Regions from separate parts of the Homo sapiens genome. Here region 1 is linked to region 2. Evidence: fine-mapped expression QTL. A gene starts in region 2. The other region holds a variant in brackets. All regions are shown on one strand. Distances are from middle to middle.

Region 1 (5,383 bases), 96 kb before region 2:
TGGGGTATGAGGAGTCAGCAGGGACACATTCCCCATCTCCACTAGGACCATCTGTGCTCAATTATAAGCCCTTTGGAAGCAAGCAGAGGGCTGTTTAGCTGCTGCTGGTTCTCTATGATTAGCTTGTTCTTGTTTTTTGAACACTGCACGTGGTGCAGCCAGCTGTGAGAAGCATCCACGATTCAAAGCTTTTTCTCTCTCAAAAAGAAAAGTGCTAAGCTGGTTGTTTTAACTATGGGAAAAGAAAAAACATTTAAAAGTGTTACTTTCTGGGTAAGTTCCTTTCCATACCTTTTAATTCCACTGTTTCCAGGATTGGGACCATCCTTTGTCTATATTTCAGACCCTATATAGGCACTTGCTTGCTGCAAATGAGCCTTGTTAACATCAAGGTAGTGTGTAATTCCAGCTCACGCATCCGTATTTCAGTAGCCTCTCTTCTCGCTTATTGTGTGTTGAGAGAGACCAGATCTTCAAGGCATCCTTTTAATAAAACCATTGCAGAGACTCCACTCTGCAATGCACTAAGGAGCCAGGGCTAACTGCAGAGGCTTACCTTCTTTTCAGGTGCTGAGCCAGGAACAAAGCAACACTACTTTGTTCACACTTGAAATCCTCAGTGTTCTCTGCAGGCAAGAAGCAGTTGGCTGGGTTTGGCTCTATGCCAGCATGAAAATCACTAGGGGTGCTTAATAAAATGGTTATTTCTGGGGCTACATCATGGATTTGAAATCCAGACTCACATGTGAGTGGAGAGCCAGAGAAGCTGGAGATTTGGGAGTCGTGTGAATAGTAATAATGGAAACCACGAGATGAACTACAATTCACAGGCAAAAGAATATGGCAGTAGAAAAAGATGTAGGTAATTGGCCAGGCGTGGCGGCTCAGGCCTGTAACCCCAGCACTTTGGGAGGCTGAGGTGGGCAGATCACTTGAGGTCAAGAGTTTGAGACCAGCCTGGCCAACATGGCAAAACCCCATCTCTACTAAAAATATAAAAAATTAGCTGTGCATGGTGGCATGCGCCTGTAGTCCCAGCTACTTGGGAGGCGGAGGCACGAGAATCGCTTGAACTCGGGAGGCACAGATTGCAGTAAGCCAAGATCATGCCAGTGTACTCCAGCCTGGGCAACAGAGCGAGACTCCATCTCAAAAAAAAAAAAAAAGATCCAGGTAATTACAGTCCCTTCGCCTCACATTTCTGAATGAGGTAAATAAACTCATTTCTTATTCTCATAATATACAGGATCTATGATAAACAGCAGCACAATTACGCCAGTAACCACAGGGCATGCCTATAGATACAAAAAGTTCTTTGTAGCATGGGTTCGGTCGGCTTTTATCTAACTAAATTTTCTGAAATTTAGAAAACCATCTAAATATGGAATAAATGGTTTTACTTACCATGCTGAAGAAAAAGAAGTAAAAATGTCTAAATATTTAGCAGAAATATTACTTCAAAACTGATTTTACTTTTTGTTTTTGCTAAGTAATTTTAAGCGTGCCCAAGGATAAAAAAAATCTGTACCAATCATGGGTTATTACATTGAGGATAATGGGAGCCACTGTCTGAGAAAGGAGTTATCAATATGGAAAGAAAATGAGAAGCAATCCTGTGTTGTTGGACTAGAATTGGAGGTACTGGTGTGAATTCATGGTTTTCAATATATGGATATGAAAGTAAATTTAGATATTAATGTGAAGCAAATTTAGACAACGTGTGTACATATGTGTGTGCATACATGTACACAATTCCCAAGTTCTGACCACTGAGCCTGGGATGAGTGGCACCACAATAGTAAGCACTCCAATCTAACCTTTTATAATAATTTCCTACTAAAAGCAAGCAGGGCTGGAGTAGAGAAACCTGGAATGTCTCATTGTCAAAAAATACAGCAGTGCCCAAGTAGATGGGGGACATGTCAAAAGTACACAGGGGCTAACCTGAAGGTGCTCCCAGCGGCCATATTTGAGACCAGTTACGCATCTAAAGAAATAATGATGTAACAAACCGTAACCCATTGAATAAAAGAAGAAACTACGAGTCCATACTAGGATGAGTTGAATATCTCTTATCTGAAATGCTTGGGACCAGACGTGTTTCGAATTTTTTTGGATTCTGAAATATTCACATTATCCTTATTGGTGGGGCATTCCTAATCACAAACAATACCCTTAATTGTTTACAGGAAATATATACTAAAGTATTTAAAGGTGATAGGCCCACTGGGTTGGCAACTCACTCTCAAATGGTTCAGGTTCTGTACTTGGAATTTTTCTGTTTGAGAATGTTTCAAAATAAAAATGTTTTTAAAAGTGTAATTTCCTTTTTATTTGCATCTGTTT[A/TA]TGACTGAAAAAATGACTAGTTATTATGAAGACACTACTGTTGAAGATGGATATTTTAACATGGAGTTTCAACAAAATTACTTCTTGAGACAGAGCTGATGTGTTTTTTAAATAACGTGATTTTAAGCATATATTTGAACAAAACTAAAACATTTAGTATTATGAATATGAAAAAAGATCAGTAAATCAATGTACTCTTCTAGGCTGAATTAAGGTAGACTATTTAAGGTTTCAAAAAAGTTTGGCTGGGGCAGAATAAGTTTTACAAAACCCATGCCATCCAAAATTAAGATGACATGTAGCAGCAAGAAGTATTCCAATGTCTCATAACCAGTTCTCGCAAGCAATGTGTATTCCTTACTTTAAGGAAGTGTCAAACAAATAGAAAAATCTGGAAGAATTTACTAAGTGTAATAAATTAGAGGTAAATCGTAATAAAAGAATTTATGTCTCACAAAAATATTCACAAGTGGGAGTTTTCTTCTACCAACTTCTCAGAGTCCTTCTAGCCCCCTCTTCACTTCTGAAAGATGGGATTTACCAAAATCTGGTTTACATTTAACTTTTCAGGGACACATGACCTGAAAAGAAAGATGTCAGATAATACTGACATTGCCTCATGCACTTTCTTTGTATCAGTCCTTCTTCTGTAAGTAATCAGAATTGGGTCCAAATGGCATAGAATCAAACATTATGTATCATGCCAAATACCACTTCCTGCCCAACAAAATTTCATTTTTCTCCAGTAATGAAGAGGTGGACATTCTTGTTGGACTGTAGCATCTGTGCCGCCCGCTCCACACCAACCACGGCAGCTAACCTCTGGGCATCATATTTGGAGTAGAGAACAGTGCAGGTCCACGTGGCCTCTTCTCCTCTGTTGGTGGCTCTCAGCATATTACAGATTTCACTGTAAAAGTGTGGATATGTCGGCAGTTCATAGAAAATCAGGTTCCTGATGCCTTTTATTGTATACCTGTCAGAATTGGAAAGAAAGAGCTATGTCAACTTGAGAAACAAGTTCTAGAAAAACTACCTAGGAGTTGTACAGAGGCATAGTTCATGCTTGTTGCTTCCTGCTAATGGAGAAAAACAGTGGCACAAGTAACAGAACAAAAGTTATTCTAACTTGAGGTGGCAACATATTTGAATTCTTTTTATGACAACATATTCGAATTCCTAATATTTGGCTTAAGAAAATGATAAAATAAATACACATTTCTTGATCCTACACTGGGTAGGCTGAGGTATCATGGGAAAGAATAGTAGACCAGGATTTAAAAATCTGTCACAGAAAACTTAAAAAGCAGGCACTTAAAATGGAACATTAGCCTTATTATAATCAGGCAAAAAAGAATGGAGACAAGGTCAGACCCAGTACATAAAATAAGTTGTACAGATTGTAAATACACTCCCATTAGTCTTTTCTTGCCACTCTGGATACATGTTAACTCCATGGCAGACGTCCCAAGTTCATCCATTTACAAAACCCTGCCCAAGGACCCACTAGGCATCATGAGAAAGCAATTAGTTTCAACAGCGTATGCATTTCCATCTCTTTCCCAGCTGCACAGTGCCGCCCTGTGGTGGGGGGTGGTGTACACCCAAGGGACTGACTTGCAGTATGGTTCAGTCAGGCTGACGTCAACCGTTCCCCTGTGGGATTCCATAACAAAAGATTTTATATGTTGACAAGCTTCTGATTTTTCCTGTTAAGTTTCTCTCATACACTGAAGACGTTAGACTCCCTTGGGGATTTTATTTCTTTCACAGAAGGTAAGTTTTCCTTGTCTTTTTCCCTCACAGCTCATCCTGATCTCTCTGGAGACCTTCCTTTCCCAAACCATGACTGTGATCTATTATGTGGTTCACCTTTCAACATCCTTTCCATAAAGAAGGAATTCTAACGGCTAATGAACTTGAATAAACTGTTCTACCTCACTAGTTCTCAAAACAAAAACAACACTGAGTTCTACTTCTGCTTAGAATGTATAAAACTCGAGAATATTGCTCCTATACCAATAAGAAAAAGTCAGATAATCTATTATACAAAAATGTTCCTTTTCTTGAGCCCAAAGAGCTACCATCATGAAGCAATCAGGTAACCTGAATTAGGTGGTGAGCTGGTGTATGTTTAATAATTGGTCCTCAGTGGGAGAAAGGGAGGGTGCTAATTTGAAGGATTTGTCAGTTTCAAGCTACCAATGTCATGCTGCTGACCCAGAGATGTGCAGCCAGGTCTCATGAGCCAGTGTGAGCCAGCTTCAGCTCACCATGGACTGAGTTCCAAAGAGTAGCCCTTCTGAGGAAAAACGGGACACAGGAACTACTGCACCTTAGGCAGAGCACAGGAGAAAGATGGCCTCTGCCAAAAAAGTGGGTAGTAAGAAAATAGATACACTTCTAACACATTCTTAAAGGGCAAGAATAGGCTTGCCTGACTTCAGGACCCCAGGGATCCCTGGATGCTCCTTTAGTTCACATCCACTCATGAGCTTGTTCCAGAGGCCTGCACTGGGAGCCCTGGAGAAAGCAGAAGACCCGAGGGAGACCCCACTGGTGGTAGGGACATGAAAGCCCACCTACTTCCCAGGCCCATTATCGTGAAACCCATGGTAAAAACGTGAAGCACACGGGGGAGAAGAAAGGAGCCACCCTGTCCCCCACCCCTAATCGCAGGCAGGCAAAGGCAAACCACTTGAGGGGGAGGGTGAGTAGAAGCAAAAGTTGTCTGCCCTTAAGGGAAGGGCAGTAAACCCCCACCCTTCCATTTGTCCCCCACACAAGACTTGTACCCAGTAAAAAGCATTCTGCCCCAGAGGAAGGGGTAAGAAACCTGTTCAGCCCAAGTTCCTGCACTGATACAAGCAGAGTTCGATTAGGGAAGAAGCTGTATACACTTCACCACAAAGATCCCTCACAGATAAAAGGTGGAGTCTGGCTGCCACGGAGGTAGCGGGGCAGGAACCCTGAGAAAACCTCACCCCCAAAGCTTGGAATAAAAAGGGCCTGCCAAAAATTGAGCTGGACCAGGAGA
Region 2 (5,383 bases):
CTTCGCTACTCTGGCTCAGTCTGGAATTCTCTGCAGGATTCTTGTTTTCTCTCTGATCCTACCACTCATTCCCCAGGGTCATGGGTGGGGCAGTCTTCTTCCCTGAGAGGAGTTTTGTGTGGTCAAGCCCTGGACACTCAAATGCCTGACTCTTGAGGGTTGGAGGGGCATACTCTGGTGTCAGGCAGCATTGATTCCAAGCAGAAATGTGAGGTTATTAATGTTTGTCCTCTACATACCCATTCTGAATGGCTCTCTTCTTTGTTTTTCCTTACTTCTTCTTCTCGGATAAGGGTGGGAGTGGGCATAGGGGGTGGTCCCTTGACTTCTTCCCTGCCACTTTCTTTATTTAAAGACTTAAAAGAAAGGGTCTGAGAGACCCATGTCTATTGTTATAAATGACTGAATGGAGGAGACGCAGGATTATGTGCATGTGAACTCCATGTCTAGAACCTACACTCACAGCATCCCTGAGCCACAGCCCCTGGCTATTCTGCCATGGATTGCAGTGGAGAACCCTGGCTCTTGGAGTCACACTGCGTGGACTCATGTCCTGGCTCTGTCACCTACAACCTGTGTGTGTTTTTAGATAAGCTATTAAACATCTCTAAGCCCCAGTCTCCTCATTTATAAAATGGGGCTAGGACCTGCCTTGTAGGTTATAAGGATTAAATGACAAAATGCAGGCCATGCACCTGGCATGGAGCACACAATAAATGTTACCTTTTAATAATAAAGACATAAAGTATTCCTATTAGGTTGGTGCAAAAGTAATTGCGAATATTATCCTTGTTATGCCGATGTTGGATATTGAAGACTTGGTGCTGTAAGACAAAGGCTCCAAGCTAAACTAGCACTTCTAGGACCAAGAATGCCTTCTCTCATCCTCTCAACCCTCTCTCTCTTTGACAGAGTATATTGTTTACCAGATTGAGGGGATGCTGGCCCCAGGCTGAAGTCACATTTACTTCTGACCTCTGGGTTTGGGCTATAAGGAGAAAGGCTTCTCTGTGGTCTGGACATAATTGCCATCCCAATTACACCAAGCCGAAAGGTAAGGAAGAGATGGGGTCTGCCTGTGTCACACATAAGGTGTGAGGTCCCCTCCCTGTTTGGCTCAGCTTCCCCACAGGTTTTGTAGTGGAGGCAGAACATTGAGAATCCTCCTACCTTCTTGCCGCGAAGAGGAAAGGGCTGTGGGGGAGAAGACAGTGCCTGAGATGAGGTCTCTCTGGGCTCTCCACCCAGGCCACCAACCTTAGTCCACTGAAACACACAGCTGCTCTGCTCTCTGCTTCCTTGGGGCAGACATGGAGCCTTCTTACCCAAGAAAGGAGCTGCAGTGGAAATGGCTCCTTAGAGAGGGGAGTGTTCCCAGATGCCTTGGCTACCACACCTGCTAGGATTTGGTGCAGCATGCTGCATAGAACCCTACCCAGGTTTCTGGGATATCTGGACCCTACTGACTTGCTTGAAAACAAGAAGGTATGTGGGACGGCTGACAGGGGTAGGCTGCTAAAGAAAAGGGAACTGGTCCCTGTAGGGTTCAAAGAAAGATCACTTGGCCACTGCCCAGGCTTTCTGGCATCTCTCAGGTTCCCCCCTGGCAGCATGACTGGGCTCACTTAGAGCTTGGAGGAAGAAGGTTTACTGGCTGGGAAGGCTCAGCCTGGTCTCTCAGGCTGCAGAGAGAGAACAGGGCATGGCTCCTCACCTGACTGTGGCTTGACATGCCTTTCTGAGTCTCGCTTTTACTTCCTGGCCATGTTTGTAATGGAGACAATGAATGGCTTCCTGCATGGGTTGGCCTTCCTGGCCCAGAGCTCTCAGTGTGAACTGAGGGGAGAGGGGCCTGCGCTTAAGCTGCTGGGAAGGCAGTCTTGTGTTCAGGGATCCCTGCTTTGAAGAAAACTGTAAAAGGTCATTTAATTCATGCCCATATCACTGGGTAGCCTGAACTCTAAGTCGTTTGACTCACTCCTAATCTAATGTAATCTAATCTACTGGAACAGAGGAGTGGTGCAAGCTGTACCCTGTGCCATGGCTAGCGCCACAGGAAACCAATACAGGATACTTTCTTGGTTACCCAAACCCCTGACACCCTTAAACTATGCCACCCACTCTCCACCCAGGGGAGCTGGGATGGTAGAGCATCTTCTGCCCTACCCCGAAGTTGGAGTTCCCAAACCTGGACACAAAAGCATCCTCCTTCTCAGTTACCTCCTAGTCCCAGGCTCCAACTCAAGCCACTCGGGAAAGCATTCCAGTCCTGGGCAGATCTTGGCTCTGGTCTCAGATGGAGCAAGACAGCAGATGGGTAAAGCACACGCTTTCAATCCATAGGTCTGGGCCCCATTAACACGTCCCTTCTTGGTACCGTCTTTCTTTTTGCACAGCAGCCTTGCTGAAACAGGAAACAGACAAAGCCACAAGGTTCGCAAACCCCAGTTCCTCTCTCTTGCTCTCTGGTATCATCTAAGTGGGCCCCTGAACTCTGAGGCCTCCAGGGCTGGGCTCAGGAGCTCCTCCCATCAGTAGGCACCCCGGCCACCCTTTCTCTTGCTACTGGATTGGTCGGAGCTCTTGGACAGTTTCAAGTCAAGATTCCTTTCCATGATTAGAAAAGGATAGTCCTCTGGGTCAGATTCAGACCTTTGTGGTTTCTATGAGAGGGAAAAAAATGCCTTTTTGGTGGTAAGACCTAGATGAGATGTTCTCAGTGTAGGCTTTCATGTGTATCAGGTAGTTCTTTGTGTAAGGATTTTCCTTTTTCTTTAGCCACCTCTTCCCAATCCTGGTGTTGTAAAGAGTTTCTGCTCTTCTGAAGTAGGTGGTGTCTTTCTCAGATTCTGGAATGAGACCAACTCTGGATTTGCTCCTTTCTGGAGCAATGAGGAGGGAGTGTAAAGGTGGGTAGCTGGGGGATGAAGGAAGGAATAGAAGGCAGAGTCTTCTACACATTTTTTTATCTGGTCAACCGGACTAGGAAATTTAGGGAAAAACTAAAGGGAACTGATTTGCATGCATTAAGATGAAGCCATCACAAATGATGCAGCCAGGAAATTCCCAAGAAGTTCAGGCTAAAATAGTGGAGAGGAAACTGGATTGGGACAAGTTAACTGAGCAGCTTTGTAACCTTGTAAAATTCACCTTGTCTGGATGCTACTCACTGTGGTAGTTGGGTGATGTATGTGGCTCTTTGGAATTCTAAGGTTTGACACATGTGAGGCAGGTAATGAGACTTAAAAATAGCTGTGATAACATTTATTAACATGTGGAGAGTTTGTCACCATTTTCTCTGCTTCTGCTTCTTTCTCTGTTCTTTGAGGAGAAAAAGGACAAGGAATCGGCAGGGAAAAGCAGAGGATGGATTCTCAAGCACTAGGACTGAAGACAAGTGGCATTTACTCAGGATGAGAGACAACAGCTCAAGGCCCTGTGTCTGGAGCTTGACACATAGAGATGGGAATGAGTAGAGGACAGAGGGCTTGGGGAGCCCAAGATGTCAGAAAAAGAGAATTTTGGCCGGGCACAGTGGCTCACACCTGTAATCCCAGCACTTTGGGAGGTCCAGGTGGGTGGATCACTTGAGGTCAAGAGTTCAAGACTAGCCTGGCCAACATGGTGAAACCCCATCTCTACCAAAAATATAAAAAATTAGCCGGATGTCATGGCATGTGCCTGTAAACCCAGCTACTTGGGAGGCTGAGGCACAAGAATCGCTTGAACCTGGGAGGCAGAGGTTGCAGTGAGCCAAGAATGTGCCACTGCACTCTAGCCTGGGCGACAGAGTGAGACGGAGTTTCACTCTTGTTGCCTAAGCTGGAGTGCAATTGCGCGATCTCGGTTCACTGCAACCTCCGCCTCCCAGGTTCAAGCAATTCTCCTGCCTCAGCCTCCTGAGTAGCTGGGATTACAGGCATACGCCACCATGCCTGGATAATTTTTTGTATTTAGTAGAAATGGGGTTTCAACCATGTTAGTCAGGCTGGACTCAAACTACTGACCTCAGGTGATCCACCTGCCTCGGCCTCCCAAAGTGCTGCGATCACAGGCATGAGCCACCACGCCTGGCCAGAGAATTTTTATTGGCATAGAAGAGTGAGAAGATTCTGGGAGTTCAGGGCATTAGAGCGTAAAGAAAGACAGGAGATTTTAATAGGAGTTCCTATAGAGACCTACTATTTGGACTCCATTAAACATCAGAAAGAAATGTCTACAAAGTCCGCAGTCATTGGGATACTAATCCCATGATAACTGGGATTTAGAGTGGTCAATGATATGCTCAAGATCACACAGAAAGTGTTGGACCCAGGTTTGCTTGACAGTAGGTTTGAGCCCTTAACATTGTGTTCTGAGAACAAAACAATTAATAAGGTTGTCATACCTATCTATCTATATTGAAAAAGACACACACACACACACAGAACTTTGAGAATAGAAAATATACCTTATTTTCAAATGCCCACGAGACATTAAAAAAATTGACCATATGGATCAAAAAGTAAACCTCAGTATATGTTTTGAAAAGTTGATCTATTATGGCAGGATTTTCTGACCACAGTACAATACAATTGAAATAAATAACAAAAGATGGAAGAAAGAAACACTTTAACTTCTTGGAAAAAAATTCTTCCCATTTACTCTGAAAAGATAGAGGGAATTTCAAATCTGCAATTAAGAATGCATTGAAAACGGTGATAGTGGCAACATTATGAGGAAAATCTGTGAGGTATGGCCAAGCAGAATGCAAGGAAAATTCCTAGCTTTAAACATTTTCATTACCTAAATCAAGAAGATTAAAAATAAATTTCCTATTCATTTATTTTCAAATGAATTGCTAAAAAATGATCAGAAAAAAAGGAGGTGAGAATTTTGAAATGATAAAAGGAGAATATATAATAAGTTAGAATCCTGTTTAAAATTGATAAAAAAAATTCAGTTTTGTGTGTGCATCTGGCAGGGGGAGGAATGGTAGACATACAAATAGAAAACAAAATCAATAAAATAAAATATCAGCGAGCCAAATCAATTTAAAAAAGAGAAAAGACATTATAAAAGTTTAGGAATGATACATGGAAAGTAGCCACGATACGGTGGAAATTAATTATAGAGAGTCATTTGTGTAACTATGCTAATGATTTTTAAAATCTAGATAAAATGGATTTAAGAAAATGAATTTACCAAATTAAGCTCAAGTAGAGATTTGTAGTGTAATCATCAGCTGGCCTCCAATAGAGGGTTTAATTCAGGCTGCTCTTGAGCTGGGCACCAGGCTTTTAGTGGCCAGTATCCTTTGCTTCTCCTCATCATTTCCAGGTTCAATGGGAACAACGGCTCCCTTTTTTGATGGTCATATTCTGAAACAGTTTCCTTGATAGAT

Evidence for each region. PIP is the estimated chance that this variant, and not a neighbour inherited with it, causes the effect.
Region 1: its variant is the best candidate, but not a certain one, in a credible set for the expression of TRAF3IP3 in whole blood (TOPMed, PIP 0.53).

What each region holds. Positions count from the first base shown.
Region 1 is chr1:209,849,143-209,854,525 of GRCh38, reverse strand. UTP25 (UTP25 small subunit processome component) reads right to left here. Exons shown (of 12, transcript NM_014388.7): 12 at 1-3,322. The coding sequence ends at 3,079. Among named protein-coding and RNA genes, the nearest start is that of UTP25, 24 kb to the right of the region's middle. The variant A/TA (reference allele first, on the strand shown) is at 2,347.
Region 2 is chr1:209,753,147-209,758,529 of GRCh38, reverse strand. It overlaps TRAF3IP3 (TRAF3 interacting protein 3), which reads right to left and starts at 2,477. Exons shown (of 17, transcript NM_025228.4): 1 at 2,221-2,477. RefSeq lists enhancers at 1,905-2,314, 2,595-2,754.